Linked DNA regions of Homo sapiens: all the other regions are linked to region 3. Evidence: fine-mapped expression QTL. A gene starts in region 3. Each other region holds a variant in brackets. All regions are shown on one strand. Distances are between the middles of the regions.

Region 1 (8,463 bases), 290 kb after region 3:
ACAGGTGTGTGCCACCATACCCGGCTAATTTTTTGTATTTTTAGTAGAGACGGGGTTTCACTGTGTTAGCCAGGATGGTCTCGATCTCCTGACGTCGTGATCCGCCTGCCTTGTCTGACCAAAGTGCTGGGATTACAGGCGTGAGCCACCGTGCCCAGCCTTATGTACCTTCTAATACTTATCAAAGAAAGTTGTCTGCTGATTAAGGGCTCAGTTTAAAAAATTTAAAAAGAAAAATACACTTGGCAAATAGTACATTCCTGTTAGCTCCCTCCAGCAACACAGGTAGACCCCTGGTATTCTTAATATCATTCTCCCTCTCCATAAAAACTGTGGAAGGCTCTACATGAGAAATGTCTGTTTTTCATTTCTTTTCAGAATTTTGTTTAATGTTTGGATGACAACAAATACTAGTTCTGTTTTCATTGGTCAATTTTGTGTTCTGGCCCGGAAGTGTTGCATGCTTCTCATCATCATAGGCAGTATTTCCTGAGGACCTACTAAGTCTGCTTTCAATGGAAGCAATCAAGAGAGGGCTGAGCTTTCCTGTCTGTTTTGCACATATGCTTCTCTCTCTCTCCTGGGGAGAGGTTAAGGCCCTTGATCTCTATCCTTCCTCAGCAGGATCACCTTTTATCTACTCTGCTTCCCCAGGAGGACAGGGCACTAGAGTGGCTGCCTCCTCTGTTACTGATAAATTAATTAACAACCTGGGAGACTTCAATGATTTGGAAGGATCCTAAAATCCTCTCACTTGATGCTTTCACAAAATAGAATATGTTTATTCATTTTACAAGACCTATATTTTTAGATCAATGACCTTTGGATGTATGATTCATCCTGATTTCATTTTTTCCCAGCGGGTGGAGTTTCACATAAGCCTATTTAAAAACAATAAAGCAAGCAATGTTTTAAATGGAATATAATCTATTCTACACCTGTTTCCTCAGACTATTTTGATAGAAGTGAGTGGTTTCTATGATAAATTATACTTTTACTATGCAATATACGACTAAAATATTTATATATTTCCCATGATTTTTTAATGTCATTTTCAGGGAAATAGCCATACATAAAAAACAAGATATTTTTAGTTGAAATGACAGGATATTTTCTAAGCATAATTTAGCTGAGCAAGAATTTATTTTTTAGAGTTTTTCTCGGTTTTCTTGTCTTCTTATGTAATGAAAAATGCATCTGGATAGAAATAACTCCTCTGGATAAAAATTGTGTAACACAATCTGCTTACATGTTTTTGTCCATTTTGGTCACCAGAATCTTGATTGTAATGATCAAGAGTTTCCAATAGATCTTGATATCTCTATGTAACCATAGAAAATAATATTTACCTAGAGATAAGATCAAGATATAAAGACTGTCTCTTGAGGAGGACTGCATTTGCAATCTAGAAAGATAATTATAAAGTTTACTATAAATATTTTCTAATGATACACTATGACCATATTTCCCCCTTTGTTCTCATTCAGTGTCCTCTTACATTACTTTATGTATAAAAAGGAAACAATCCTTTCCTACCATCTCCACTTTGTAACTGGAATATTCGCTTGTTTCTCCCATCAGTGGATGAAATTTCCAATCAGGTACCATAAATTTCAGAATCGCTCTGGGATTGAGTGACCGTATAAATTATCATCCAAATCATCTCATTGTTGAAAGTGAAAGGATGGCTATTTATTATCTACACAAGGGCATCAGGTGAAATCAAAGATGGCCTATGCAAATCAGGGTATATAGTCACATTATTTTTAGATTATCTAAAAGTCCAATCTAGTTTTATCCACCACAATAACAAGCCTTCAGCTCTTGTCCAATTACTCTTCTCTCCAGCACCAATTCAAACCTGCTGCAAGACTGAAAGCCTACACAAAAAAAGGGGGCAAAGTGGGCTTTTTCTTCCTTGCCTTACCTCCTTCCCTACTTATGTGACAGTGCTTTGGTATATTCCCACATGGTATGTAGAAAATAAGAAAGATAAGAGAGAAACATGTCTCACCTGATGGATACAGTTGTCAAGTGGTATTGGCCATTAGACATGTTGTCCAAAGCAGACTCTCAGATTCCACACCGAGGACATAAGAATGCACTTCTAGTGTGGCAGGCCACGCCTCTCCTCTATAAGGGCATTTATGTTTCTCCATTCAACACTTGAACTTCTGGGGATTCTTTCCTCTGTGATATTTATCACATCTCCAGATAGTCCTCTCAGGTAGAGTCCCTGTCCAAACAACCCCAGGCTACCTCTCTTCCATAAAGCCCACAACTGGTCCATGGCAAAGACCCATGCCATGAATACAAGTGTGGCTTGCTCTCCGTACCACATCCCCTTGATCTTTCTGCTACAGACAGCCTCCTACCTTAGATTTCTCCTAGCAAGAATAGCCTCAGCCTGGAACTCCCCAGCCTTACGGAACACATGCTAAACCCTCTAAGGAATGTTCCTGAAGCCTCTCTTTTTCACTTGGTACAGGTGAGAGTGAAGCTCTCCACCATCTTCCTCTATGGGGAAGGGTGGTGGTGAGTCAGGGAATGTCAAAGGCACATCAGCACCTCACTCCGAAATGATCCCCACCAAAATCACTGGCCTTTTTAGCTCTCTCATGAAGGTTGGAGGTGAGTGATTGGCTAATGAAGATTTGCTTTTACTGTTTTGTAGTCTGTCTTGTATCAGTGAACCAGAACCTTGCTTTGTGCTGTGGAAGTGCTTGCCATTGATTGTTTACTTATTCTTGGCTTTTAGGGTCTCTGGAAAAACACCCAAGAATCAGGAACAAGCTTATTAAACATTGTGTTACCCATGAAAATGAAATGTGTAAATTAATGTACATATAGTGTCCAGTTCAATTACTGGCATATGGTAGGTGCCCAACAAATGATACCTTAAAACACAAAAATGGCCAGGCATGGTCACTCACACCTGTAATCCCAGCACTTTGGGAGGCTGAGGTGGGTGGATCACCTGAGGTCAGGAGTTCAAGACAAGCCTGCCCAACATGGTGAAACCCTGTTACTACTAAAAATACAAAAATTAGTCGGGCATGTTGGTGGATGCCTTTAATCCCAGCTACTCGGGAGGCTGAGGTGGGAGAATCACTTGACCCCAGGAGGAGGGGGTTGCAGTGAGCCGAGATCAAGCCATTGCACTCCAGCCAGGGCGACTGAGTGAAACTCTGTCTCAAAAAAGAAAAAAAAAACGACACCACAAAAATGAAGAGCCACTAAGGGACTCAGTGATCTGGCAACTTTAAATCTAATTTTCTAGGCTCCAAATTGCTCATCTCATGACCACTGCTCTAAGGTAACTACTTCCAGCTTCAGAACTCTTAGTATGGAGTTTAAGGAGTTGTTTATGTTTTGTGCAAAGGGCAGTCTCTAAGTAATTTCTCTTTATCCAGTGATTTATGTGGAAATTATATTCTGAAAATATCAGGTTAGGTAATATTGTACTACTCCTGATCCCTACTGAATCCTTTTTATATGTGTGTTCTCTGAAAGCAATGTTTTATCAATAGCAGTAGTTTTGAACTTTGAGACTCAGAGTGTTTTGTGAGAAGTTAATGAAAGTTATAAACCTTTTCAGTGGAAAATGCACATTCACACACACATATTTTGACTATAATTTCAAGAGGTCCTGTGTTTCTTGAAGCCCAATATTTGGAGAGCCTGGGTTGCAGGCTTCCCAGGTTCCCAAGAACAGAGTCTCTGCATTGAGATGGTGTGAGAGGAGAGGATGGAGGTGTTTATGATTATTCCACAGCCTTTTGGAGGGAAGATAATTTTTTTGCCTGGAATCCAAACCTAACAATAATTCCCCCTTGAGTAAGCATATGCTCTCTTTGAAACTGTTGCTTGTCTTGTTAAAACCATTGTCTGATCTTTCCTTCTTCCCTTCTTCCTGGCCACTACTACTGCCATTATTATCACCCTGCTTCATTTTATGCAAAGTCTAGAAGCATAAAGGGAGTCCTGGTGTTTATTCACTTCTTGCCTAATGATTTCACTTCAGCAAGACATCAACATATATGTACACATGATTGATTTCCCCTCAGTAACTTACCGTTTTCTTCAATATCATCAACGTCCATCCAAGCAGAGATATTGCAATGTCCATAGATATTTATCCTATTGGCTCATAAAGAGCTGTAAACACCAACATGTGGAGCTGCAAAGCAGCTCATTTTACCTAAATGATTGCATTAAGGAAGATTGATAGCCACAAAGAAGAGGTGGACATGGGCGGGGCTAGAGAGGGAAGAAACACATGCCATGGTTTTTTAGGCTAAATACTGCGAGTGGTA[T/C]TCATATGTGTCTCTGCTGTAGCAATGGTGATACTTAAGTCGTTGTTCCCCCTCCTTTTGGGACCTGTTTGGGACTGCTATAATAGCTTTCAAACAGTGAATAAAAATATTACAGACCATCAAACTTTCCTTAGAGGACTTCTTTTTTATGTCAAAGACCTTCAGTGAATGTGTTGTCTTGCTTTTCTGAAGAAAATAGTTTTACAGATGGAATGATATCCTCTTACAATTGTGTCCTGAGTAGAGTACAGCTCTATACATGTATATGTATATATTTCTATCCTCTGGCTTTTAATATCTTCTGACCAACTTTAGGGCAAAGACAGTAGTGAGAATATTGGTAGGGCTAGACCTTGGTAAATTATAAAATAAATGCACTGAATTCAGTCTTGTTTACTTTTCCTGCTCCAAGATACCTCTTCTAACTAAGCCTTGATATAGCCAAAGTATTAAGATAATTCCCCAAAACACGAACTAAAAAGCTAACCAAGCAGTCTGACAAGCTTGATTCCTAGCCATGGGGGCCTCTGAATTTTATTAGACTGTCAGCTCCTTGAGAGCAGAGACCATGTCTTTAAAAAAAAATCTATATTTGATCTGTAGTGCCTATGACAGTAATTATCCCAAAGTAAGTAGACAATAAGTACTTGAATGAATGAAAAAGGATAAAAATTTTATAATTCATTTTAATGTTGTATTTATCTTCAAGTTTATTGACGTGTTTAAGAGTTCTGAAGACCCTAAACAATAATTCCACTGATTGAAATAGCATAGTCTTGGATACAACCACCCAATAGGCTGGATGCATCATTTTCTGGTCCTTGTAGAAATTACACACCTTCAGGCTGGGCGTGGTGGCTCACACCTGTAATTCCAGCACTTTGGGAGGCCGAGGCAGGTGGATTGCTTGAGCTCAGGAGTTCGAGCCCAGCCTGGGCAACATGGTGAAACCCCATCTCTACCAAAAATACAAAAAATTGGCCAGGCATGGTGCCATGTGCCTGTAGTCCCAGCTACTCAGGAGGCTGAGGTAGGAGGATCACTTGAGCCTGGGAGGTGGAGGTTGTAGTGAGCCAGGGTTGAGCCACTACTGCACTCCAGCCTGGGTGACAAAGTAAGACTTTTTCTCCAAAAAAAAGGGAAATGAAACTATACACCTTCATTAATATTAAATATAGACATACATAATTATTGATGAAGAAAGACAGAGAAGCATAAATAACTGGTACTCAAAGCATCTCTATAACTCTAACTTTAGTGAAAACTCTGAGGGAGACTGCCTTATAAAACGGTACATTTGTCATCTGGATAACTGATCCTTCTGCAATGGGGTCCAGATGCAATAGCCTTATACTGAACTCCACTAATGGGAAAAAGTGTTACTGCCCCATTTCAATGTATGAGAAACCCACCAGAGATATCTGAGCTCTGAAGAGAGAATTTCTGTAGAGAACAGAGTGAGCCTCTTGATCACTAAAAATAACCAAGGATATTTATCAAAAAAAAATTTTTGGCCATATAAGTAGTATAAATAATCTCAGAGAAAATGTGTTGGTCTTCATCCTAAGATAATATTGAGTTTCTATGGGTATTTATGTGTTGGCAAAGGAAGGTAGGAGGAGTGCCAGTTTTTTTTATATACTTGTGCCCACAATAGCACCAAGTGATTTATCAGATGCAGTATAATAATAAGATCACTTGACTACCTGAAGGTGCAGGGATGCTTTTTTTCAGCTATTCAAAATAACTGGTTTTTGAGAACATACGGTGAAACACTGGCAATTTTCCAGTATACACACTGCATACTCACACATGCACACACATGCCCACAAGACATTGGGATTTTTAATTTTCAAAGTAAACTTATCTTCTGAGTTAAATTATTTGATAGTCAATACCAATAAAACCAAAAGTTTGAATGTCAAATGTGCACATCATTTAGTGTTGCATCCTCAACATTTGCCTAATGGTTACACTCAGTCACATGTGTACAGAGCTTTTACTATGGTCATATAAACACTGGGAGATAAATTTCTGAGTTTGTTTCTAGTCATAGCATTAGATGCATTCTAATTTTTCTCACTTTTCGAATTTACTTTATGATCAATTACATGACTGTGAGAATTTGCTCCAGGTTAGAAATCCAATTTGTGACCATAAGACAACAAAATTGGTTTGTATAGAAAGAAATCTTTAGCTGAAGTGATTATCCCTATTTTAACTAAATGAGTTTATTTTCAACATACTATTCTCAATGATAAAAATTGCATAATTTTTCAAGAATAATGCATATGCTTTATGTGATATAGCTTCTGCAGAGGATTTGTATTTTAGTCTTTATTGTGTCATGGAAGAAAAATAAGAAAGGAAATGGAAAACTTAAGAGTCAAGGTATCCTAGCACTTTGGGAGGCCAAGGCGGGAAGCTCACAAGGTCAGGAGATCGAGACCATCCTGGCTGACATGGTGAAACCCCATCTCTACTAAAAATACAAAAAATTAGCCAGGTGTGGTGGCACGTATCTGTACTACCCCAGCTACTCGGGAGGCTGAAGCAGGAGAATCATTTGAACCCAGGAGGCGGAGGTTGCAGTGAGCCAAGATTGCACCACTGCATTCTGGCCTGGGTGACAGAGCGAGACTCTGTCTCAAAAAAAAAAAAAAAAAAGAGTCAAGGTAAAAGTTGTATAAGTTAATCAAACATGTGAACTCACAGTGACCCCCACAGCTTGCACAGTTTGCAGGCCTGAACATATATAGATACACATGAATATGTTGAGCAACTTTACCCTCTTCACAATCTGGGGTACCTCTTCTGTTTCTATATTTGATCAGCAAAGGTCATCCTGTACTTACTCATCATTTCAAGTTAACAGTAGCTCTGGAATTTATGCTGTACTGCAGTAATTGTGTGTAATTCTACCCACAAGGAATCATGTGAAAGAAGAAGTCATTTAATTGCAATGAGATTAAGGTCAACACCATTATAAAGTCAGAAAGCAATAATGAAATTTTAAAACTAAAGCTATTTCAAGACATATGGTACAAAAGGAAGAGGCAGTGGGTCAGTGAAACTGGGTTCCCATTGAGATGTGCCAACTTCGTCATGTGACTTTACAGGAAACACATAGCCTTTCTGGATTGCAGTTCCTATATTTACAAAACAAATGAGGTGGAGTGGGTATCTGCTGAGTCTCTTTCCGGTTCTAGCTTTTCTGTTCTCATTCTGGAAGCTACAAGAAGGACAGGCAAATCGGGTATTTATCACAGATCATTGGCCTTCCTGAGGTTTAGTTCAAGGCAAAAGGGCTTCCTCTCACAGTCATTTTATGCTTCAGCAGAAAATGCAGAAAAAATGCTTCAGATAAGTATGAAAATCTTCATTAATAAAATCTACTTCTCTCATATTCTTAGTCATAATGCTTGAGAGACCTACCAAATCCTCTGCTTTGGTTCAAAAAAAGGAAAGAAGGCCGTGAAATACAAGCGTTACCTGGGACAATAGACATACTAGATCAATGTTTCTTACAAGCTTTGATTAATTTTTGACAATTTTACACTCTTAAAAATTACTATGTATCTACACAAAAACCTGCACATGGATGTTTTTAGTAGCTTCATTTATAATTTTTGCGAAAACATCAGAGCAACCAAGATGTCTTTTAGTAGATAAACAGATAAACAATCTGGCCTTTTCATTAGCTCTTAGTAGGATTACACATGCAAGCATCCCCACCCCAGTGAAAATGCCCTCTGGATCACCGGCTCAAAAGGAGCAGGTATCAAACATGCATGAATGCAGCTCAAAACACTTTGCTCAACCATATCCCCAAGGGAAACAGCAGTGATAAATCCTTAGTAATAAATGAAAGTTTGACCAAGCCATACTAATATTTAGGGTTGGTTAATTTTGTGCCAGCCACTGCGGCCATAAGATTAACTCGAGCTAATAGAACTTGGCGTAAAGAGTGTTTAAGGTCTACCCTCAATAAAACTAAGCTCCATCTAAGCTGTAAAAAACTCCAGCTGACATAAAATATACTATGAAAGTGACTTTAATATCCTGAAGACACAATAGCTAAAATCCAAACTTGGATTAGATACACCACTATGCTTAGCCCTAAACTCTAATAGTTATATTAACAAAA
Region 2 (8,463 bases), 150 kb after region 3:
TCTGATACAAATGCTCATCTCTTCCAGAAACACCCTCAACAGACATACCCAGAAATAATGTTTGCCAGCTATCTGAGGATCTCTCAGCCTAGTCAAGTTGACATGTAAAATTAACCATCACAGCTGGAAAGATTTAATATGGTATCTGAGAATTAGTTGTGTGAAACTGATATTATGAAAACATTGAGATGTTTGGAAATGGCAAAATGAATAACTGAGATAAGATAGAGAATAAGATCACTAGAGGATAGAAGCAGGAACTGGGAAACAGTAATATTGCATGAATTGCCAAGAATGAAACTGATATTCTCAACTAGCAAGGCAAGACTTGAAGAGAATGACAGTGAACAAATATTCAGTTACAAGTTACTAGTAATAACCCAAGAATTCAGTGGCTTAATAATTTATTATTACCTCTCATAGTTTAGTGTGATAACTAGGCTAAGTTGAGCATGTCTTCTTGGAGTCTTTCCTGCAGTGATTGGCTGGGGGCTTTCCTGGGACTGTCAGCTATAGTGCCTTCTCATGGCCTCTCCATGTGACTTGGGCTTCTCATAACAAGAGGCCTCAGGGTAGTCAGCCTTCTTTCATGGTGACTGTCTTCTAAGAGGCAAGAAGCAGAAAGAGCCAGATGAACTAAGGGTTACATCCGGAAATGGTAGGTGATACTTTCACTGTATTCTATTGATTAAAATAGTCAAAAAGCCTGAAACAATTTAAGAATGTAAAGAAACAGACTCTAGTATGACATGGGAACATCCCAAGGTTACATTGCAAAAAAAAAAAAAAAAAGAAGTCAGGGTAATCTTTGGAAAATTCTGTTAGCCATAGACAAGGAATAAATTATAAGGTATTAGTGGCCTAGATGGGTGGAGGTGGCAAGGGTAACGGTATAACATTCATGACTGCAAAAAGGGGTTATTTAAGTAATAAATGAAGGCTGGGGCAGACAGAGCCAGTCGTCTACCAATATATATTTTAAAACATATTTTCCCTCTCCGGTAACAGAATTCTGAATTTATTCATTGAGATATTGTGTCTTAGTAAGATTTCATTTATCAACCTCACTTGTAATGAAAGATAGATATAGATAGATGTTCAATGAAACATAAACGAAAGGCCTTCAGTGGATATCCAGGAAAGGTCTTTAAAACTGGCAAAAACGTCTGATGTTTGCCTCTTGTGGCTCATTCCCCTGGTCTTCTCTCTCTTTCTGGAATATAGGTATATTAGTTTTCTTTTCTGCATAGCAAATTATTACAAACTTAGTGGCTTAAAATAATATACATTTATTATCTCCCAGTTTGTGGGTGTGGAGGCCAGACACAGCTTAGCCGGTTTTCAACTTCAAAGTCTTCCCAGGCTTCAGTCCAGATGTTGGCTGGGGCTGCAGTCTCTCTAGAGGTTTACAGGGGGAGGATCTTCTTCCAAGCTCCCTTGGGTTGTTGGCAGAGTTCATTTCCTTGTAACTACAGGCCTGAGGGTTTCAGTTTCGGGCTGGAGGACATCCTCAGCTCCTAGAAGCTACCCACAGTTCCTTGCCAGGTGGACTTCTCCAGTGTGGCTGCTCACTTCATGGCAGGTTGAGGGGGAGGACTCTAGGGTCAGTGTGCTAGCCAGACAGAGTGTGACATAATGTAACATAACTATGGCAGTGGCATCCCATCATCTTTGCCATGTTCTGTTGCTTAGAAGCAAATTACATGTCCTGCCCATGCTCAATGGGGATTCTACAAAGCATGAGTACCAGAACATGGAGACTGTGATGAGTCACCTGCAGGAATGTCTGCTACAATGTGGGTGACAATCACAATTCCAATAACTATCTTGTAATTTTGAAGAAAGGAATTAAGCGATAAGAAGAGCAAAACTTGGGTCCCTGAGGATTTCACAGAGGTGCTGAACCAACCTTGGAATACCTGCCTCTGATTTTATTACCTGAGAAATAAATCTCTAATTTGCATAAGCCCCTCAAATTTTATCACTGTCATGAGTTGCTGAACACAGTTCTTTACTGATTCAGGCACTAACCCTTTATTTTTACCACTTTTAAAATTATGTCTTAGGCATATAATTGTACACATCCTCTTCTTTCTTTTTTACAAAATTCACGAGAGACTAATGTTCCCCTTATTGTAGATAATCACATAAATTACAACAGCTTCCATTGTTAACTACAAACTAACGAGTCCCAAAATGATAGCTCCAAGATCTTCTCTTTAGCTCTCAGATTTCTTATCTTTGATATACCTAGACACTTTATATTCAAAAATACTATCTTTTCAGTTGCCCAGATCAAAAATATGATAATATCTCTTCAATGTGATTGGACATGTTTCCTTTAAGGTTTAAGTGAATAGTGCTCTATAATGGAACTCAAAACTGAGAAGAAAGCAGATGGTGTTTTAACACAATAAATGCCAAAAGTTATGCTGCAAGGAAATGTAAATCTCATCTCCAGAGCCCATATGGACCATTGGCAAGAGATTAACCATTGCTGTGGAAGAGCTCTGCTATTCCTAGATGCTCTGGCAAGACTAACAGAAGCAGAGAGAGAGAGAAGAATGAAAAAAAGCAATCTGTGGATCCCAGAGCAAGCAAACACATCCCAGGAATTGAATATTCACTTTCCCAGCCAGGCAGCATAAATGGCCGGGGAAGAGAATAGTCATGATTCACCATGCCTCTAGAACAGCACTGTCCGAAAAACTTTCTGCAATGATGAAATGTTCTGTATCTGCTCTGTCTAACAAGGCAGCTGCCCATAACACGTGGCTATTAAACACTTGAAATGTGGCTAGTGTGACAGAGGAACTGAATTCTTCATTTTATTTAGTGATAATTAAATTAGATCTAAATATCTTGTATGGTTAGGAAACACATTGGACCATATAGCTATGCAGCCTGTGAAGTTTCCTTTGATATATTAGGGGGTTGAAGTGGTGCTACCTGCTGGAGAAAGGGCAATGGAAGCCTTACCCTGATGGACAGGAGCAATGAAAAGGCCAAGACGTCTGAGAGAAATCTGAAGGGTGGAGTGTTGGGAAAAGAATAATTCCACATTGGGTTCTCTCCACACAGTGCTTAACATCCTTTAGTTAGCAAGTTAAAAGGGGTTTGGAAAGGAAATTAACAAGTTTTGGGGCTATAATATATATATTATTTTATTCTAAGAACATTTGGGTATTTGAACATCTAAAGTACCAGCAAAAGAGTATGTAGTCCTTTCATGGAAGATTATAGTTTTAAACAGCACTTTAGCCTGGGCGCGGTGGCTCATGCCTGTAATCCCAGCACTTTGGGAGGCCGAGGCAGTTGGATCACGAGGTCAGGAGTTTGAGACCAGCCTGGCCAATACGGTGAAACCTCGTCTGTACTAAAAATACAAAAATTAGCTGGGCGTGGTGGCGTGCGCCTGTAGTCCCAGCTGCTTGGGAGTCTGAGGCAGAAGAATCGCATGAACCCGGAAGGCAGAGGTTGCAGTGAGCTGAGATCATGCCACTGCACTCCAGCCTGGACAAAGCAAAACTCCACCTCAAATAAATAAATAAATAACTAGCACTTTAAAAATTATGAAAATAGTAACATTGTTATGATAAATATTTGGAAAATATGAAGCATCCTAAAAAAAATCACTGGTAATCTCATTACCAATAGCTTACTTCTGTAAAACTTTTAGTGTATAATATAACCTTCCAATTTTCTTTCTGTGTGTATCTATGTGTTTGTATTTATGTGTGTGTATACACGTATACATACATATATCCAAAATATATATACATATGTAGATGTATATATCACAACTGATACACACATATCAGTGTATGTAATACAATTGGTCCAATACTGCTTTGTTCCCTTAACAGTAGATTGTAAACATATTTATAGGGGTCCTCATTTATCTGCAATGTGATTTCAAATGGGAAGCAACATGATGAAGTGTTTTACCCCCGGACTTTGGAGCCGAACTACCTGGATTTAGGTCCCAATGTGTGATTTACCTATTGTGTGACATTACGCAAGTCCCTTATCCTTTCTGTACCTCAGTTTTCTCAATTCAAAAGGTTGCTGTGATAAGTAAATAAGTTACTATATGTAAAGCATGTATTACATCTGGCACAAAGTAAGCACTATATTTATGAGCTATTATTATTATCATTATCAATGGTTGGATACTATCCCATCCTATGAATAGATCATAATTTAAATAACAAATCTCAAAATATTTCATACCCAAAAAAACTTCTTTTTAATACCTATAATAGAATATAGCCATTATTTTAATTAATTCAAGTAATGGTTTATGTTATAAAAGATCAGGGAAAAAAGTAAATGAAGTTAGTTTGTTCTCTGTTGAAAGCAGATATTTAGAAAAAATAAGTTACAAGTACATAATTATTTTAATGGATATATATATACATAGAAATCATTTATGTTGGCATTTTTAAACTATAAGAGTTTCAAGAGAAAATGTAAAAGGAAAAAGTCATAGATATGTTTCTACAGGTTTAAGAGTACATATTCCACCAAATCTTTATATATGCAACATTGAGAAGTGTTGTCTTAGAATTAACAGGGTGTTAAAAATATTTTGGTTGTGTTCCAGTAAGAACTATCTACACACAAACAGCAACTCAACTGGAAAAAGTCTCCACAACAAAATTGGTTTCCAGAACATATATTTCACAGGGTCCATTGCTTCTGCTCTAATCAAACGATCCTTAGTAAGTAATTCAAAAGAACATCTCCATTGGCAATTTGCTGACACTGGTTTTCTTTTCCCACAAATTGAAAACACTGATTAAGGAAAATAATCTGACCAGGCATGTGAGCAAATCCAGTGCCTGACAGGAAATCTGTCTGAAATAACTCTTCAATGGGCCTCCCCTATTATCTAGATATTCCAATTCCTGTCTTGGGAACATGGGAGACTCCTTTGGGGCTGAGGGTAGAGATGAGATGGAGGAATCATATGAAATTGTTAGCTTCAATTTGTGACATGCAAGGTTAGACTGAGAAGGAGAAACTGCCTGACCAGGGTACATGTGTCCTGCTATGTAGTTATGAAGGTGTGGCGCTCCTCTCTATAAATATATTGCAGAATGTGAGATAGCTCACTATCAGAGAGTATATTATATTAAAAACTCTCTCTGTTTACTTATCTCTTCTAGCTTTGCCAAGTTCATAATTATATACTCTCTATGAATTACATTAAATAATTTAACATGTCTGGCAATGGCTCAAAACCTAAGACATATTTAGGAAAATGCCCAAGTTTCTGTGGTTTTTGTTCTAAGAATCCTGAAG[T/G]CTTAGTCAGAGACGTGGAGTAACTGTTGGGTCGTGGCCAGTGTACTTGAAGTGATGGTGGTTATGCTTGCTCCAAAGATCAAGAATAAAACATTTTTCTGATCCCAATCACCTTGAAAGCATGATCATTCTAAACTTTTTATGCTTTTCACTTCCAAAAAGATTTTCAAGGTAACCAAAAGTATTAGTTGATAATACAAAGATTTTTTTTTCAGAAGCATTCCAGCTAATACATATAAAAGAAATGTGGTAACTAGAAAATCATCAAATTGCAATTTGTAATGAAATAAATGATATAGACAACAACAAAAATTTGCTGAGCTAAGGCAAAGAATGAGAAGGTCTTCATCATGAGAAAAACAAATATAATTTGATCGGACTCTTGCATGGTTCTACCTTTGGTTAAGGATGCCCTGATGGTTTTTCTGCTATCTTCTGTATTTTCTTCACTAAGTATCCTTGTTCCTCCCTCCTTTCTTCCTTGAATCCTTTCTTCCTTCTTTCACTCCTCTAATAACTATTTATTGAGACCATGTTATAATTGGCATTGAAGATGCAAAAACTGTCCGTGTGCATTCCTTGTCCTGTCCTTCAGGGACAGTAATGAGTAAGAAAAGGGCAAAAGCGGCTGGGCACAGTGGCTCATGCCTGTAATCCTAGCACTTTGGGAAGCCAAGGCAGGTGAGGTCAGGAGTTCAGGACCAGCCTGGCCAAGATGGTGAAACCCCGTCTTTACTAAAAATACAAAAATTAGCCGGGTGTGGTGGCACGCACCTGTAATCCCAGCTACTCGAGAGGCTGAGGCAGGAGAATTACTTGAACCCGGGGGGCAGAGGTTGCAGTGAGCCGAGATCGCTCCACTTCGCTCCAGCCTGGGCAAAAGAGCAAAACTCTGTCTCAAAAAAAAAAAAAAAAAAAAATAGAAAAGGAAAGGACAAGAGCCAGACACCAGTAGGTTTGAATACCAGGTCTATCATTTCTATGCTGTGGAATTTGGGGCATGAGACTTAGGACCTCTGAGCTTGATTTTCCACTTAGAGTTATTGTGAAGATAAATGAGAGAGAACTCTCAAAGCACCTAATACAACCACGCAGTAACACAAGCACTTGAGAATGGTAAGTCTACTACCTTTCCCGTCCCCCTGCCCCACACACTGGTGCGTGAGAACAAAGAGTTCTTTCATTCCTAGCCCTGTCTCCAGTGTGGGATCTTTGGCTCTGAGCAGGGACCTGGACACTTCTGCCTTAGCTGCCCCTGTTGAATCACCCACATCCCCTCTTATGAGCTGTTCACGTCAGGCCTAATCACCATCAACTGAGGAAAGCCCACGGGCAGAAGCAAAGGGAAAATGGAATCTGGTCCAGCGATTCCAATTTAGCTTCCTTTAACCAAACAAGTATTGGCTGACAGGATGCAGCATGCCCACTTATACCACATGTACCAGTTCTGAGTTTCATTTTTATTTTCATAAAAAGTTGAAGCTACAGATGTGATTATGATACATGATATACTTCTGTAAACATAATATTCTTTTGGAAATATCTTTTCTTCCACGATCCGTTAACTCTATTGATAAAAATTAATACTTGGTCGATAACTCTCAAGAAAGAATCCTTCTCATCTGTCCTGGCCTCAAGCCTTTCATTCTGCTTTCAGCCTGACGCTCAGTGGTCTCTGTAACTCTTGGAATCTTAACTGTCTATGAACTCTCAAATCTGGAAGAGCAGGATTTCTTTATATTTCTCATACTCTCTTTTGCTCTCTGTGTCATGTGTATAATCTACAGTTTTAGATGGTTATGAGGGTTTTAGTTTCTCCCTTTCCCCTTGTTGTCCTGACAAGGGCAAGTAGGTTCTGATGGGCTTTGGGTGGGTGTTCTAGATAACAGATCTCCACAGGAGAAACAGAATTTGCATCAGAGCCTGTCTCCACCGCTCTCACAGGAAAGGCCTGTGCACAGGGACCTGAAAGTGAGGTCTTTAGCCTAGATAATGTCTTCTATTTCTTACATTATGTGACATTATTATGACTTTTTGCTACCTCTATGGGAATTCTCTTGTGAAAAATTACTGTAAACGATTTTTTTAAAAGTCAGTTACGATGATGGGAAAGGACAGGGCAATTAATACTTGATTGATAACTCACAAGAAAGAAATGTTCTCATCTGTCCTGGCCTCAAGTCTGTCATTCTTTCAGCCTGACACTCAAAGGTTTCTGTAGCTTTTGAAATCTTGACTGTCTGTGAACTCTCAAATCTGGAAGAGCTGGTTTCAATCAATGTAATACAAAGTACTGGTGGCATTCCTTAGGCTGGATAACTGCTCTACTAGGATCTGGGGAAGAACATCAGAGGCAGAGAGAGCAGCAAGGCCCTAAGGCAAGAAGGAAGCTGGCAGGTTGGAGAACAATAAGGACAATGATCAGACTGAGGCATAATTACAGAGGGCAGACTAGCAGGGATAAGTGGTTGGAGGCCAGATAATAGTCTCTTATAGGCCAGAGGTATGGTGGGCCAGGACAGATGTGGTTGAGATTGTCTTCTCCAGCACTTCAAGGAGCTGTGAGTTGAGGCAGGGGTTGAGATCGCTCCTTTAAATCTGGAGGAAAAGTCACCAGCAATATCTCTAGAAATAATGCTTAGTATTCTAATACCATGATACACTGCTGGAACCGATTTTTCAAAAGACTTAAATCGAACGTGTAACCTAGTGCCTTTTATATGAGGAGAGTTAGTTTAAGAAGAACCCAGGAGGCAGAGGCTGCAGTGAGCTGAGATCGTGCCACTGTACTCTAGCCTGGGTGACAGAGTGAGACTTTGTCTCAAAAAACAACAACAACAAAAAACCACAATGCGATACCACCTTATTCCTGCAAGAAGGGCCATAATCAAAAAAATAATAGATGTTGGTGGGGATGTGGTGAAAAGGGAACACTTTTACACTGCTGGTGGGAATGTAAACTAATACAATCACTGTGGAAAATAGTGTGGAGATTCCTTAAAGAACTAAAAGTAGAACTACCATTTGATCCAGCAATCCCACCACTGGATATTTACCGAGAGGAAAAGAAGTCATTGTACAAAAAAGAAAGAAAAAGATACTTACACAAGCATGTTTATAGCGGCACAATTCGCAATTGCAAAAATATAAAACCAG
Region 3 (8,463 bases):
TCTATCCTCAGTGCCTAAAACACTTGACTATACTCATTAAAGATAAACGTTTTATCTGATTTATTTAAGTCAGGACAGTGTACTTTCTTTACAGACTTTTAATCATTTGGGATTTTTCAGTGTTTTGGATCTATCTTCCTAATTTGTATGTTTCAGTGAGGTTAAAAAATCTAAAGTTGGGCTGGGTGTGGTGGTGCATATAATCCAATACTTTGGGAGGCCGAGTCAAGAGGATCACTTGATGACAGGAGTTTGAGACCAGCTTGGGCACACAGCAAGACCTGTCTCTAACTGCTTCCCTCCGCTGCTACCCAGAAAAAATATGGAAAGAAAGCAGAGAAAAAATCTAAAATTAAACCCAGTAATTTGACGCAATGATGAGTTTAGTCAGGGCTGATGGAAGGATAACAGAGATGGGAAATCAAGTATTTAGGTGCTTTTCTAGGATGTATCACTCCTAACTTTATTTATTTTCTACCCTGATAATTTTTTTGTCATTACTTAGAAATCATAGCCTCTTAAAAGGACTATTTGAATATTGAAATGAAATCAACAAAAAAAACTTTGAAATGGATTCAGAGGTCTCTTTTGCTTTTTCACATTTGTTATGGTCTAAATCAGAGGTCATCAAACTATAGCCCATGGATCACATGTAGCCCACTTTGTCTGGTTTGGTTGTTTGTTTGCGTTTTCCTGGTCCAAGAGCTAACAATGGTTTTAATATTTTTAAGTGGTTATATTTTTAATAGTTATATTGATTCCTACATAATATCCTCAGTTTTACCTTGGCCTGTAACACCTAAAACATTTACTATCTGGCCCTTTAAGAGAAAGTTTGCTGGCCCTTGGTCTAGACAATTTTTCTTCTTCTTAAGAGGAATTCAAAGCTTTTGTGAAATGGTTATATTGTTGGTAAGAGTGTAAGTGGATACTGAGTTTACAATGAAGCATTTTTGGCCCTTATCCACTTAGAATTTTCTGTCTGCTGTCTGGAATCTGTTACTTAGGGTTTTATTTGTCATTAAATGTTTGGCATCTTTTCCCATCCTTTCTCATGAAGGATGGATGGCCATTTCCTAGTGAAGCAAAAAAGTATAATGTAAATTTGTATAAACATCAATTTAGATAGTTTCTCAAAGACCAAAAGAAAAAATAAGAGTTTGGTACTTACTGAGACAAAAAAAAATGTTTTTCCTCTTATATTCAATTTCTTATAAAAGTTAAAACTGAAAGCATCTTGGACCAATGACTGCTTTAATATTCCCTGAAGCAGAGGGTAGGGAGGGGAGGAGGAACCAGAATCACCCAAGGAGCATTTTTCAATTACACTCCTCCAGGTTCTCCTCCCCTCTCCCCAGGCAGCAAGATTCTTTTCTGTGGAAAGCAAATGCTCTCCCAGGGAGCATTTAGTAATTACTCAGGGGTATTGGGTTGGAAACCAAGGAGCAGCTTTAATGCCCTCAGTGCAGAGAGTTCAACCATGTTCTCTAGCCCAGACACTAAACCACACCCAAGATCAGCTGGGGTCCACCAAAAGATGCTTAGACAAATAAAGAATCAACACTAACACCTGGATTACCAACACCAGTGTGACTAACACTTTTTCCCTTGCAGGGGCATAACCTTGAGGCAATTTTATTTAAGAAAAGACCAATATAACTTGTTTCATTTTTACCAGAAAAATTGTGTTGTGGATGATTGGAATTTTTATCCTTTAGACAAATTATGAATACTGTTGGAAGCTACTTAAAGATAAATTAGTAAGTTAATAAATAATTTTTTAAAGTAGAATGGAACAATATTCTCAGCTTGATTTTGCAGAGTTAAATTCTCGTCAATTGAATCTTTACATATTTGGACTTCCTCTGGGAAAATATAAGCAATATAAACAAATCTCTGGATAATTTTAACTTTTTAAAATGTCTGATACATTACTCTATAAAGTATTATTTTTCATCTCTGTATTTAACAGTGATCTAAACTGATAATGGCTAGGATATACAATCTAAATCTGGTTAAATTACATAATGACTGTTTAATCATAATAGCCATCTTTTATTCTGCTCTAAAAATTCTAAGCATATTCATTGTCATAGCATATCTACCAGCAAATTTGGGAATTTCTATCTTACAGATGCAAAAGCATCATATGGAGAATATATATATATATAGCATTTATAAATTTACAAAGGAAGTGGCTTAAAAATAATTCGGTAGTTAAGTTATACTGTTAACAATCTTTTTTTGATGTCTGCCTTGTTGATATCTGTCTACTAAGCAAAATAAAAATTATAATGGTATTAAGATGGCCAGAAAATTCAAATCCTAAAGTAACTTTTGGTGCCTATGTTCTCATTGGATTCAACCACATACTTGCCAAATCTCGGCTTCTGTTTATAATATGTAGGTAATATGCCCTGTGGATAATACAAATGGTTTCTGAAACATGAAAGAAACGCTCAGTGATACAGATCCAGGGGAAAGAAAAGTTACATTTTCGTGCTTAATATATAACCCTGGTCATTTCTATGGAAACAGATCGTTATGAGAAATCACCATCATGTAACTGCATAATAAGGCCTGTTAGAATTGATTGCTAATAATTGTAATGTGCTTAGGGAAAAACAGCATGGAAGCCTCACCTACCTGAGACAACAAAATGAAATCACTAAGTACAGGAAATCAGAGTGAATAATAACAGTGTATTCCCATCTGCCCACCCAGGAAACCCTTCCTTCCACCTTTGTTACAATGTGATAGTCTGACTGTTGCTCTAATATGAAAATCCATAAATAGGGTTTTGGAGTAGCTAGTTGGTGGTGGTCAGCTGTACCATAAGTTAAATGCAAATTTTTTGAGAGTGAGAGGAAAAAGGAGAGACAACTTTATTAGAGTGAAATAGTCAACCTGCCTGCAGACATGCTGACCCATCAGTCATTCCAACAGGTTTAAACTCTCAGGTGGGTGTGGTATTTCCGTTCACATCCCCAGTACTGGGCTCAAAGCTCCAGGACTGAAAGTAGAATGCCTCCTAGAACTGTTAAGTCTTCAACACAGTAGAAAAAAACGGGGGATAGGGGTTGGGGCGGGGGGGGTGGGCAGTGGGATTTGGGGAAAACAAAAAACTTCCAATTTTCACTTTATTTAAAAATGAATAAATGCGCTTAATTCACTGTTGCTCAAGAAATAATCTCCCGCGTGTTTCAGCATACCAAAAAGGCCTAACTTACGCCAGGTGTGTAAATCATAAAGGAGCCAAAGTCTTCCGTTTGTTTCTAAGGCCTCCGGGCGCAGGAACCTCGCGGAGGCCCGTGTGGTCCCTCGGGGCTCTGCACGCGTGGGAGCTGCCCGGCCTGCTGAGCCTGGGAGCGCCGGCAGCGCGTTCCCACGCTCAGGCCGGGTCGGGAAGCCGTGGTGACCCCTAGGGGCTCCTTTCCGCGGTTCTCGCCCTCGCAGCCCCGCCCCAGCCGCCCCTCCCCTCCTGGTTCCAGTCCCGGAGCGTGGGAGCGCAGCTGCAGCGAGCCGGGAGCGAGGCGCGGAGGCACCTCCAAGGATGCGCGCCCGCGACCCGGCCAGCAGGCTGAGGACCAGGCGAGGCGCGGGGGGCCTCCCACACTGGGCGCCGACCTGGGCCACAGCCAGGGTAGCCGGCCACTTACTTGATGTCTTCCCACACCTCGGGGCCGTAATTGCGGATCACCAGCAACTCCAGGGCGTGATTCACAAATCCGTACTGCGGGGACAGGGAGAGACTTGAGCGTCAGGGACCCGCTGTACCTGAGAAGCGGCTTGGGGGCGAGGCTGCTGCCTCTGCTCCCATGGCGCTGGCTTAACCTTTCACCCCGCCCCTGACTCCTCTCCCTTAGGGGTACTATGCACTAAAGGAGTCGGATCGTGGGGGCGCAACCCCCCAATCCCTGGTGGATTCTCCCCGTCACCATCCGCCCCACCCCCACGCTATCTTCCCACCCTCCTCACCTGTCACCGCTCCGGGAGAGGCTGGGCATCGGGGGCAGCGCGGGGACGCGAACCCGGAGCCTTCCCTTCCGCTGGCGCTCAGCCTCCCACACTGGTGGGGCCGGCCAGAGCCGGGAAGACCCCACGCCTCCGCCGCACCTCCCCTTCCCGAGCTCAGGAAGCTGCGGTGTGGAGCGGCAAACCCGCCTGGGAAGCAAAGGCACCGATCGCCCCCGCCACGACTCGCGGCGTTCCCACCTCCCCTGACTGGGCGCGGGCAAGGAGTGAGGCTGCTCCCGTGGCCGGCAGTGAGCGCCCAGGGCCCCCGAGCCAAGCTCCGGCTGCGCGGCCAGTTCCCTCGCTGCCAGGCCGGCCGAGGAGGGGTGAGGTTCGGGCCGCACCCGGCTGAGAGCACTTACCATGGTGTCTGCACCGGGAGCCGGGGAGGCAGCCCCCACGCAGAGGTACGGCCGAAGGGACCCAGGCAGAGGCGGCAGCGGCTACAGCGCAACCGGGCCGGGGAGGCAGCATCGAGCTGGAGCGAGAACAGCCGCCTTGGCCCGCCCTGATTGCCACCTCTTCCCAGCCAATGGCGAGTCGAGCCGCAGGGGGCTGGTCGGTGCTCCCCAGTTCTTCAACCAATCAGGGACAGAGGAGGGAATTCGGATGCTCTCAATGCTGCTGCGCTCCAGTGCCTTCCCGCCCCCGCCTGGTGACAAGGCCTTCATTTGAGGCCATAACAATGACAGTGGAGAAGCCCCAGCCGTGCTCCTTGCATGAATTCTGGAGCAGAGGAAATGCAGCTCTTGTGGACCCACTAAATGTATTATTATTCAGAGATCTGCCCTCAGTGGTTAACACAAGCAAAAGGGAACAGGGCGTGTTTGTTGTGTGAGCGTGTACGTGTGTACTTTGCAATGGACAGACCTTAAAAGGAATATCCTCTGTTGCTGGCATCCTCATGCTTATCTTTGTCTAGCGGAAAAACATTTCCTCTGTGGCTTGGTCCCACAACAGTTTATGGCAAATTTAAAGCTGGTAATATTGAGAAAAACATATTTTCACTTCTAGTCAATGAGACTAGTTGAGTGAAGCACCAAAAATTTTCAGTAATGTAGTTTGGTGGACGTTATGTTAAATCCAGTCCTGCCCTTTACTAAACTGTACAAGATCCAGCGATATTCTAGGCTTGATCCCTGTGGGACACCTTTCCCTACACCATGTCCGGGAGCCATAATTCCAGGGAGTTTGTAACCCTCTAGAGCGGGCCTCTGTTGCTGTTTCTTAGCAACAGACGAACTGGAAAATGACCAGTACAAAATGCACAGACTTTAACTACTCTACCTCCAGCTTACATTCTACCAGGCCCTTAGGTTAGTTAATGCTCTGAGTCCTGCCATAGAGAGAAGATGAGAGGAACAGGAAGTGGCAGCTTATTAAAGCTGTTTGTACCTGAGGTATATGGACTCCAGTTGACTTTTAGGGCAAGGTCAAAAGTGAGGTCACCAGTCTCAAGTGGACCTGAGAAGCCAGATGGTATTTTAAGATGTGCATATTTTGTTGTGAGAACAGTCTCAATATGGTTAGAGAAAAATGTCAAAACAATAAGATTGTGCTGACATCAGCACCGAGAGAGCTATGATGAAGGAAACTGATACAGAAATAGTGGCATGTAGCAAACAAACAAAACAACAAATTACTTTAAAAATTTCCATTATTGGTGGAATGAGTAAATAGATTACAGCCTTTCATACAATCTAACACCTTGTTTTAAACAACTATTAAAACATTAATCATTATTTAACAACAATTAACCACTAATTTTGAACCATTAAAATGGCACATTAAACAACCATGAAAAAGCAGGAGGGTGACTAGAAAATGATGATGCAGAAAAGTATTGTCAGGTTTACAAAACACCACAAGAATGTAATCATTTTCCATTTTTTAGAGTTAGTATACAGTAAGGTGCTATGTGGGTAATAACACAGGCACATACATGTTGCTGTAAGAATAATGGTTTGGGAGGAAACACAGGAAGTGTTGATATGGCTATCGTCTGTAATTAGAACCAGTGGCTGGAATGGCCATGACTCTTACTTTTTATAACTTTCTGTATCTTTTGATTATTTTTCTACACAGATGAATTTTCTTTACTGTTACATAACTGAATTTTTTTTAACTTTTATTTTAGTTTCAGGGGCACATATGCAGGTTTGTTATATAGGCCAATTACATGTCTTGGGGGTTTGGTGTACAGATTACTTTGTCACCCAAGCACTAAGCATGGTACCCAACAAATAGTTTTTTGATCCTCACCCTCTTCCCACCTTCCATCCTCAAGTAGGCCCCAGTGGTCATTGTCCCCTTCTTTGTGTTCATGTGTACTCCGTGTTTAGCTCCCACTTGCAAGTGAGAACATGTGGTATTTGGTTTTCTGTTTCTGTTAATTTACATAGGATAATAGTCTCCAGCTCCGTCCATGTTGATGCAAAGGACATGATCTCATTCTTTTTGATGTCTGCATAGTATTCCATGGTATATATGTACCACATTCTCTATCCAGTCTACCACTGATGGACATCTAGATTGAGTCCATGTCTTTGCATATAGTGAATTCACATATTAATTCACATATATTCACAAGTATTCATTTTGTGAATAGTTTATTTCATTCCATGTGACTAGTGCTGTGATGAACGTATATGCATGCATGTGCCTTTATGGTAGAATGATTTATACTCCTTTGGGTATATACTCAATAATGAGATTGCTGGGTCAAATGATGTTTCTGTTTTAAGTTCTTTGCGAAATCACCAAACTGCTTTCCACAATGGCTGAACTAATTTACATTCTCACCAGCACTATATAAGAGTTCCCTTTTCTCTATAACCTTGCCAGAATCTGTTGTTATTTGACTTTTTAATAATATACATAAAATAACTTTTAACTTGCTAAAAAAACTTAAAAAAAAAAACTATGTCTCTTATCTGTTCACCTTTGAGCAGCAATGGACCCATGCTCTCTGGTTTACGGTGTGTTGTGGTGTCCTCCACCTTAAACTTTACATAGGCAAAAGATAAGGAGATTGAATTGTTCTCTGGGAATGAAAAATGAGGAAAGCTCACTTAGAGAAAGATATGAGAGGAAATGAATAATGAGCATTTCTGCCAATGTCCCTTTCTCTCTGTCTCTTTCTCTCTATTTCAGTTCTTCTACCCTCACTTTCCCTTTTGTCCAATAACTTTTTGCACTTGTTGTTGTTTTTGTCCAACACATTTTTGCATTTGTAAATGTTTTTACTGTTTTATTTTCCAATTGTCTTATATTCATTCTGAATCTAAAAGAAGTTCTAGACACTAAACATTTACTGACTTTTGTTTGGCCTACAAGATATTACACAGGCTGTGATGTTCAGGGACAGAAGGATGCCTGCCAGCTGTAGAGGATCTCAAAAGAGGGGTCACCATTCTTCTATAAAAGCTCCCTACCTGTTGTCATCACTGCTGGCCAAGTAGCATAGGAATCATATCAGGAAGTAGATTATGCTATATTCTCTGAACAATGCATTGCATTCTTGTATGTATGCCCCAAGCTGAGGAGGATCAGTTAAAGATGAAAAAGAAGAGCTTAGGGAATGGCTTAGCCAGCCCTAAAATCAACATGAAGTTCAGTCTAATGAATGAACAATAAGTAAAAAGGCAATATGTGGCTTTCAGAAATGTCAGCTGAAGTGACTCACATTTTCAGCGAATAAAAATAAATTACTTTGGTAAGTTAAGTATTAAAAGTATTGTAATCGGCCGGGCGCGGTGGCTCACGCCTGTAATCCCAGCACTTTGGGAGGCCGAGGCGGGTGGATCACGAGGTCAGGAGATCGAGACCATCCAGGCTAACACGGTGAAACCCCGTCTCTACTAAAAATAACAAAAAATTGGCTGGGCGTGGTGGCGGTCTCCTGTAGTCCCAGCTACTTGGGAGGCTGAGGCAGAAGAATGGCGTGAACCTGGGAGGCGGAGCTTGCAGTGAGCCCAGATTGCGCCACTGCACTCCAGCCTGAGTGACAGAGCGAGACTCCGTCTCAAAAATAAATAAATAAATAAAGTGTTGTAATCATTGTTTTCAAGGCTTTGCTAGTTAATGTGAAAATTAGAAACCTTTGATTAAGGATAAAGGAAGATACATATATATTTGGGGGTGTTCCCAGGTCTGTGCATGTGTTTGTCAAAGCTCTGGTGTTTTGCCAGTTTTTTCTGTGGCTTCCATTTTTAGATCATTTTATGGAGCAGCATGTCATTTCATTTCAACTATTTCTTATACAATGATTTGCTTTATATTCATGTGCCTCTTTAATCTCTGTGGCTAAGAGCCGAATATTGATTCTTTGTGAAGCTTCTGCTGCTGGTCTTGGTTAGTCGCACAATAATCACATCTGTTGTCATTATTTTTGCTAATATAGTCACTCAATACTTCAAGCAAGGAATTCAGAATACTTACAAGCAAAGA
Region 4 (8,463 bases), 78 kb after region 3:
AAGTATAGGCCTGGCTACAGAAAGAACAGCAAAGAGAAAAAAAAAAAAAAAAAAAAAAAACACAAGGAGAACAAGAACAGATGCATCAATGGAGGCGGTTCAGGCGGTGGAGGAGCTGCGGAAGCTGGAGCAGGGCTGAGAGGGTCAGACAAAGCTAAGCTGTCATGCAGGAGAACACCAGGAGCTCAGTGATACATGAGCATTATATGAGACCTAAATTTCTATGTCCATAAATAAACTTTTATTGGAGCACAACCACACCCACTCATTTATGCACTGTCTATGGCTACTGTGTTCAAACTGTGCAGTTGAGTAACTGCTATGGAGGTCACATGACTGGCAAAGCCTTAAGTAGCTACTATCTTGTCCTTGATGGGGTCTGTTGACTGACTCCTGCTTTAAAGAGCTGTTGGGGACATCACATACATTATCTTATTTAATCTTCACAACAATCTTATGGGAAGGGTGTGTGAGTGTGTGTTTGTGTATTTTAGTATTTTTTACACAAGAAGAATCTGAAACATCGATCATGTAACTTGTCCTTGGCCATAGCTGGTGAGTGGCAGAAACAGGAAATGAACCCAACCCTATCTAACTACAGAGCTCCTGCTGTGGAGCTGCCTTGAGAAACCAGGAGCTTTTGACATATCATGGTGATTATTATTCAAGTTCCCCTACTAAAAAATGTAATCTGGGAAAACAAAGACTAAATTGTATCTGTTAAATTAGTGTACAGAATAAAATGAAAGATCAGGTTGTTGGGCATGTCAATTAAGGTAATGAAGTTTAGATATTCCCAAAATGAAGGCATGAGAGATGCTTCCAGGGTCCCAGTGAACTCTAAGGAGACTCCCTTTGAAAACTTCACTTTGAGCCTCTCTAGTTTTAGGCATCAGAGAAGAATTGAAAGGCAGCTAAAAAGGCTGTTGGTGTCTCTGCCACATTTAAAGGATCTTTACAACAAAGCCAAGGGATAAACTTTGGCAAAGTACGTTTCTCAGAGAAATTTTCTTTTATGACCCCAGAGAAAAGGCTCATAAAAGTGAAGTGTGAGATTCGAGGCCTGGAGACTCAGCAGATGTTTCTTTGGAGGTGGCCCAGGGGACCAGGCTACTAAGGTATTAGTAATTGATGGGTAGTCAGGTACCTTTTCTAGTTTTCTGACCAGCAGTAAAGCTCTTTCTGATTCTTAAGACAGGAAATGAACTTTTGTCATAACACTGGGACACAGATCCTTGATGCTTATGCTGGAATCAGGTTAGCAAAAGACGTGGCAAATTCCAACACAAACTCAATTCTGCCAAGTTTTTACATAATGATTAGTTTAGAAGAATCATTACCAGAAATGAATTTGGACTTCTGAACATATACTTTGCAGGTATATATTTGGATGCTTGCAAAGTCCATATTGAGAAAGGCTGAGTCTTTTCCCATTAAATCCAAACCCACAACTATATTCTTTTAATGCCTCTGCCATCTAATTGATTCAAAATAGAGAAAATTTAAAGAAATACCAAACAATTTTTCCTATTCATTTCAGTACCTCTTACATAAAAGTCAATATAAAGACAGAGTCATTTGCATAATAGGAGTTTAGAACTGGAAGAGGAGTTAGAGATTATTTATTGCAGTCCCTTCCATTTGCAGATGACAGAGTGCAGACTTCAGTGATGTGGCTCAAACCCCAAAGCTCAGGAGGTGTATAGGTGTATTGAGTTCACCCAATATACCCTGATGACCTCCTCTACTGAAAATGCTGAGAAGCCCTCCTTTCTTTGTGGACCACCAGCCACTGCAGGGAATACTTTGAGAAAACTTGAAAACTTAGTTATCTGAATTCAAATTTCACACTTCATCATCTTTTGAGGGTTAACATAACTACTTCATCTCAGACCAATCAGAAGATTACCTTTCGTCTATATATCATGCTAATATTAACATACATTATAAAATTGCTTTCACTGTCTACAGTTCCTAAAATGTTGCCCCAGACTCTTTTTCATAATTTTCTCATCTTCTTTTGCACTTTCTTGAGAAACTATCTTTTAGTCCCTTTTCAAATCTCTAAACACATTTTCTAAATAACTTTCCTCATTATCTTGTCTTTGTCACTTAATCAAGTTTGCTATTTTCCAGCCTTAATCAAACCAGCCAATGCAGGTCACAGTTTATCCAACTTTGGGACTGCCAATAATTATTTTCTGCTGAAATTGAAAGAACTACTGGCTCTGAGTCATCTGGTATAAACACGGAAGTGACATAGATAGGCTAACTAAATTGTTATTATTAAATTTATTCAATTTTTTTCCATTTATTTTCCCTGGATTCTTTGTATGTGAAGACACAAACACACCTCTGTAAATGACACACAATTTGACAAGCCATTTTTTTTGTTTTCCTATATATTCTCTTTTTCTATTTTACTTATTATTAGTGTTGTTTTTCAACTTTTTTCAGAAAAAGTGAAATCTCACTATACATAGAGTTTATGCATTTCCAAGGTCTGTGCTTGATAAAGAAATCAACAATGCTCATGTAATTTCCTATCCTCCTTTTGCACTTTGCTGTGAAATCAGCTAAATGAAAAACCATCCATGTTTCTATACTTGACTGCCTTATCAGAAACACTCAGCACAGAATCATCCATCATTTGGCCACTCAATTAATATTAACTAATCTCAATAAAATATATTAATATTAGGCTATTAGCTATAATCAATATAGGGGGCAAAACATGAACCAGAAAAAACATAAAATACAAATAAAAGAAAGCTAAATCAGAGTTTCTAAAATGTCTTGCTTATTGGAAATACATTTTAAAATGAGTTGTCAGTAGATCCATTTATAATTCAATCAAAATTTACTGTTTCATAAAAGGACAAAAAATATTCCTTTCTTTAATTTTCTTCAAAGCCTGATATGAGTGGGGTATATACACACACACACACACACACACACACACACTGAATTTTCTTTTCTTTTTTTTTCTTTTGAGATGGAGTCTCACTCTATTGCCCAGGCTGGAGTGCAGTGGCATGATCTCGGCTCACTGCAACCTCCACCTCCCGGTTTCAAGCGATTCTCCGGCCTCAGCCTCCTGTGTAGTTGGGATTACAGGCACACACCACCACGCCCAGCTAATGCTTTTGTATTTTTAGTAGAGACAGGGTTTCACCATGTTGGTCAGGCTCGAACTCCTAACCTCGTGATCCGCCCCGCTCAGCCTCCCAAAGTGCTGGAATTACAGGCATGAGCCACCGTGCCCAGTCGAATTTTCTTATGTATATATAAGAAATTTTATTAAATAGCTAATGGCTACAATAAAAAGGGAGAATAAGTAAAGATAGAGAGTTAAAACTGTTTATAAGAAATATCAGATTTAGGCGGTGGTGGCAAAAGAATCATCAGGGAAGCCTTCTTGGAATGTACAGAATTTGAGCTTATTTTTTTAAATGACTAAGTTCTGAAAATTAAGATTTTGGCAAGGGGCACGCCACAGAGAAAGAACAGTGTAAGTGAAAGCAAGAAATGAAGGAAATTGTGGGAAAGAGGCAGGAAAAGATGGCTACTAGAG[A/G]TATTATAAAATTAAAGTTGGCATGATGTGGCAACTCACTAGATCTGAGGAATAGAATGACTCTGAAGTTTTGTGTAGAAAGATATAGCACCGTTCATGGAAACAGGTAACAGAAACAGAGCAGTAGGCCTGAGAGAAAGGATGTTGAATTTGTTTTAGATACATGGATCTTGAACTGAGGTAGCAGGGAATCTAGGGTGGAGGTGCTTTTGAAAATCGGAGTATTTACTTCAGAAATGTGTAACAGATTAGAGATGAATTTGTGCTCCTCCCCATAGCAGAAACCATTATAGTCAGGAGTTTAACTAAAACTGTTTAAGATCAAGAGGCTACATATATAGAGAGAAGATAACCAAATTTAGAACTCCAGGGAATCCTCATGTTTAAGGACTGGAGAAAGTATTATGACTATGACAGAGAAGCAGCAATTAGAAAAGTACAATGAGAATGAATATGAAAGAGGACACGTGTTCGAAAAGAAGTGTATGTCACAAGTCTGAAGAGGGTAAGGAGGACTGAGAAAATATCATTTGATTTTTAAATTAGAAAGATGTTTATGGCTTTTAAGGCAAAATTTTGAATAAGAATAGTAGACTGAAAGTGGAAGAAAATAAGGAGTTATAGTGATAAAGTACTACACTGTAACTGAGTACAGATTACATTAAGATCTGTGGATTGGGAAACAGCAAGTTTGAAAGAAGGATTGTGAGGATATGAAATCCTTTTCTTTTGTTACCTATATTTGTAGCTTTCTGTAAATAGAAATACTTACTATACAGAGCACAAAAGTTAGCTCAAAGTACAGGGTCTTTGACTTCTGGTTAAATTGCAGAAAGTCACAAGAGACTCCCACTCCAACACTAATAATGAGAACAAGTGAGACAAGCTCTGCAATCATAATTTTTTTAACCCATCAGAAAGCATCTATGAAAACTATAATTATTGAGTCATACTTGATGATGAAAGACTGAACACTTTTCCACTATTATTCAGGACCAAGCAAAGATGCCTGCTCTCACCACTTCTAATCAATATTGTACAGAAGTTAGGTCCTAGCCATTGCAATCAGTTAAACAAAAGGCCAAAAGGTTGCAGGTTTATGTGCACGTGTGTGTGTGTGTGCATGTGTGTGTGTGTGTGCATGTGTGTGTGTGTGTGTGTGTGTGTATCCAATCGACCCTTGAACAACACAGATTCAAACTCCATGGGTCCACTCATATGCAAATTTTCTTCTGCCTCTGCCATCCCAGATGTAGCAAAACCAACCCCTTATCTTCTTCTTCCTCCTCCTGCTCAAAATGAAGACAACGAGGGTGAAGATTTTTTATAATGACCCACTTGCACTTAATAAATGGTAAATATATTTTCTCTTCCTTTATGATTTTCTTTGTAACATTTTCTTTTCTCTAGCTTACTTTATTTTAAGAATACAGTATATAATACATGTCAATCAACTGTTTATGTTATCGGTAAAGCTTCCAGTCACCAGTAAGCTATTAGTAGTTAAGTTTTTGAGGAGTCAAAACTTTTATGTGGATTGTTGACTGTGCAGGAGTGTCAGTGCCCCAACCCCTGTGTTGTTCAAGGATCATACACATGCATGTGCACACACACACACACACACACACATATACTTAAAATTGTTCATGTAGGAATTCCCAGTGGATATACAAAATAACTAGAACTAAGAAGTAAATTAAGCAATGTTTCAGGATACAAGACTGATATACAAAATTCCATTATAACTTCTGTACTAGCCACAAATACTGGAAAATAATTATTTTAAAAACTCATTTATGATACTGTTAATAAATACTTAGCAATAAATCTAACCAAAGGCTTACAAGACTTTTACACTGAAAACTACGAACATTCACGAGATAAATTAAGGAAGGTCTAAATATATGGAGAGATATATACCATGTATAATATTGTTAAGGTACAAATTTTCTCTAAACTGGTTTATAGATTCAATGCAATTCCAATCAACATCTCAGCCATCATTTTAGTAAAAATTGACAAAATGAGGCTAAGATTTCATTGATGACATAGGATAGCCAAATTAATATTAAAGAAGAAAAAATAGCACTGAAGGACTTATATACCTGCTTCAAAACTTAAAAAGTTAAAGTAATCAAGAAAGTGAGGTATCAGTTTGAAAGGGGTGACAAAGAGATCAATGAGATAGAGATCCACAATTGTGTTTACAACAAAGGTGTCAAGGCAATAAAATCAGGAAAGAAAATATGTTTGTTTGTTTTTTAATAAAAATGCCATTGGAACAACTGGAAATCCATATAGAAATAGAAATAAACTTTTATCCACACATCATACCATATACAAAAATTAAATCTTAATGGACCATGCCATGGTTTGGATATTCGAACCTTCCAAACTTTATGTTGAAATCTAATCTTCAGTGTTGAATGTGGAGTGAAATGGGAGATGTTTGAGTCATTGGGCAGATCCCTCATGAATGACTTGGCACCGTTCTCACGATAGCCAGTGAGTTCTTGCTCTACTAGTTCCTTCAAGAGCTGGCTGTTACACAAAAGCCTGGTGTCTCCTCTCTCTCTCCCTCGCTTCCTCTCTCTCTCAGTAATCTCTGCACACGCTGGCTCCCCTTCACCTTCTGCCATGAGTGGAAGCAGCCTCATGCTCTCACTAGAAGCAAATGCTGGTGCCATGCTTCCTGCACAGCCTGCAGAACATTGAGCCAAATAAACCTCTTTTGTAAATAAATTATCCAACTTCGGGTATTCTTTTATAGCAAAATAAACAGACTACGACAAATCGTAAACCTAAGTACGAAAGTTACAACTATAAAACTTACAGAAGAAAACATAAAAGAAATTCTTTGTGACCAGGTTTGAAGCAAAGATGCTTAAATTTGAAAAAAAAAACATGAAATATTTAAAAAGAGCATGATAAAGTGGACTTCATCAAAATAAAAAAAATACTTTGGCTCTTCAAAAGACATTATTACATAAACAAAAACACAAGTCATATACTAGAAGAAAATATATGTAACACACAACAGCAAGGGAGTTTAATTCAGAATATACAGTTTTCCAACTCAGTAAGAAAATAAACAATTCCATTTTAAAATGGGCAAAACATCTGAATAGACAATCATTAAAGAAGGTATATAAACAGTCATAAACATTTCTTCATATGCTCAATATTATTAGTTATTAAACAAAAACCCATTAGAATGGCTAAAATTCTAGAGTTCAGCAATGTCAAGAGTTATTGGCAATGTGGAATAACTGGAAATCTCACAGATTACTGGTGGGAATGGAAAACAGTTTGGCAGTTTCTTAAAATGCTAGACATTCAACAAATGCTATTGTTTATAAGCAAAACTTGGGTAATTCACAAATCATCAGGAAAACTTGCAATGTGGGCAGAAAGGTTACCATAGTAATTACCATAGTAAGTAAAAGTGTGAACCCTCCCTGGCTACAAATACCGGTTCCATTATTAATTAAATGTATGACATTAGGCAAGTGACTTATCTACTCTGTGCATCATCCATTTTTTCATCTGTAGAACAGTGATGAGAATAGAACATTCCTCAAGGGATTTGATTAAAGTAATGCAGTTGTATTAATGCTTGGAATGTAAAATGTACCTAAGAAATGTTCACTATTATAAACTGGACTTGATATAAAATTATTGTAAAAACCTTTATGTTTACCTTGTTCAAGACACATTTGAGTTAAAGCAGCATTTCTCGAAATGTGGTTTGCAAACTCTTGGGGATGTCCTGAGACCTTTTCAGAGGATATGCATGGTCAGAACTATTTTCATAACAATATTCTAATATTATGCACCTTTTTCATTCTCATTCTCTCACAGATTGCAGCAGAGTTCTCCAGAGACTACATGACATGTGATGATGTAATCATTCTAATGGAATTTATATTTGTGTAGAATTTTCTAAATTAGTAGGTTTAAAGTATAAGTGTACATTTTTGGAGATTAACGCAGTTTGTTCTCAGAACTCTATTATTTTTCCTAACTATCAGTATACTTGTTATAATGTTTGTAATTTCATTATTGTCTAATAATTTATTATTTTGAAATCTTGAAGTTTTTCTTGGTCTTAAATGTAAACATAAGAAGTAATTCCACTTTGCTAATTTTTTATATAAACTTATTATTTTAGATTTTAATATTTATTCTAAGACCAAGTCTATTGATTTTTTCATATATATACATATATATATATTTTTGAAATGGAATCTCGCTCTGTCAGTCAGGCTGGAGTACAGTGGCACGAACTTGGCTCACTGCAACCTCCGCCTCCCAGGTTCAAACAGTTCTCCTGCCTCAGTTTCCAAAGTAGCTGGGATTACAGGCACCCACCACCATGCCCGGCTAATTTTTGTATTTTTCATAGAGATGGGGTTTCACCATGTTTGACCAGGCTGGTCTCGAACTCCTGACCTCAGGTGATCTGCCCACCTTGGCCTCCCAAAGTGCTGGGATTACAAGTGTGAGCCACGGTGCCCGGCCTGATTTTCTTCTTATATTTAAGGATGGATTCTTGGCTTAAAAAGAGGAAACTAGAACACTTTTTCAATCCACGGCTGCACTATCTAGGACTGCCATTGTGAGCTTATAGCTATCCAATACTTAAAACTTCCTGATGAGATCAGTGGTGATAGTCATGAAGGCTAACTTTTGACACTGTATAATGAAGTGTGTCACCATTTGGAAAATGTATAAATTTCAATGGACCAATATTTTCCAAATGACTGTGATCCTACATATAAGCTGATGAACAAAATCATGTATGAGTAAAGGATCCATTCCCAAGCATTCTTCAGGATCTTTCTCTTATAATCACATTACCTAATCTTCCCTTAGAATCTTTCATCAAC

Alleles and levels. Positions count from the first base shown, and alleles are read on the strand shown. Sizes are in standard deviations (SD) of each study's normalised expression. Not every link is listed here.
For the expression in aorta of the gene that starts at base 4,499 in region 3, T is the high allele of the variant in region 1 and C is the other (small effect, 0.33 SD a copy in GTEx).
For the expression in fibroblasts of the gene that starts at base 4,499 in region 3, allele T in region 2 goes with a lower level than allele G (small effect, 0.38 SD a copy in GTEx).

The links. PIP is the estimated chance that this variant, and not a neighbour inherited with it, causes the effect.
Region 1: its variant is fine-mapped to the expression of GUCY1B1 in aorta (GTEx, PIP above 0.99).
Region 2: its variant is fine-mapped to the expression of GUCY1B1 in fibroblasts (GTEx, PIP above 0.99).
Region 4: its variant is fine-mapped to the expression of GUCY1B1 in whole blood (INTERVAL, PIP above 0.99).

The regions. Positions count from the first base shown.
Region 1 is chr4:155,466,009-155,474,471 of GRCh38, reverse strand. No RefSeq gene overlaps it. Among named protein-coding and RNA genes, the nearest start is that of MAP9, 93 kb to the right of the region's middle. The variant T/C (reference allele first, on the strand shown) is at 4,317.
Region 2 is chr4:155,601,707-155,610,169 of GRCh38, reverse strand. No RefSeq gene overlaps it. Among named protein-coding and RNA genes, the nearest start is that of GUCY1A1, 61 kb to the left of the region's middle. The variant T/G (reference allele first, on the strand shown) is at 5,308.
Region 3 is chr4:155,755,057-155,763,519 of GRCh38, reverse strand. GUCY1B1 (guanylate cyclase 1 soluble subunit beta 1) reads right to left here and starts at 4,499. Exons shown (of 14, transcript NM_000857.5): 1 at 4,377-4,499; 2 at 3,660-3,733. The coding sequence starts at 4,379. LOC105377506 (a long non-coding RNA gene) reads left to right here and starts at 5,105. Exons shown (of 8, transcript XR_007058484.1): 1 at 5,105-5,330. RefSeq lists silencers at 3,452-3,721, 4,172-4,321.
Region 4 is chr4:155,677,201-155,685,663 of GRCh38, reverse strand. All of the region lies in intron 2 of GUCY1A1 (guanylate cyclase 1 soluble subunit alpha 1), which reads right to left. Among named protein-coding and RNA genes, the nearest start is that of GUCY1A1, 15 kb to the right of the region's middle. The variant A/G (reference allele first, on the strand shown) is at 3,575.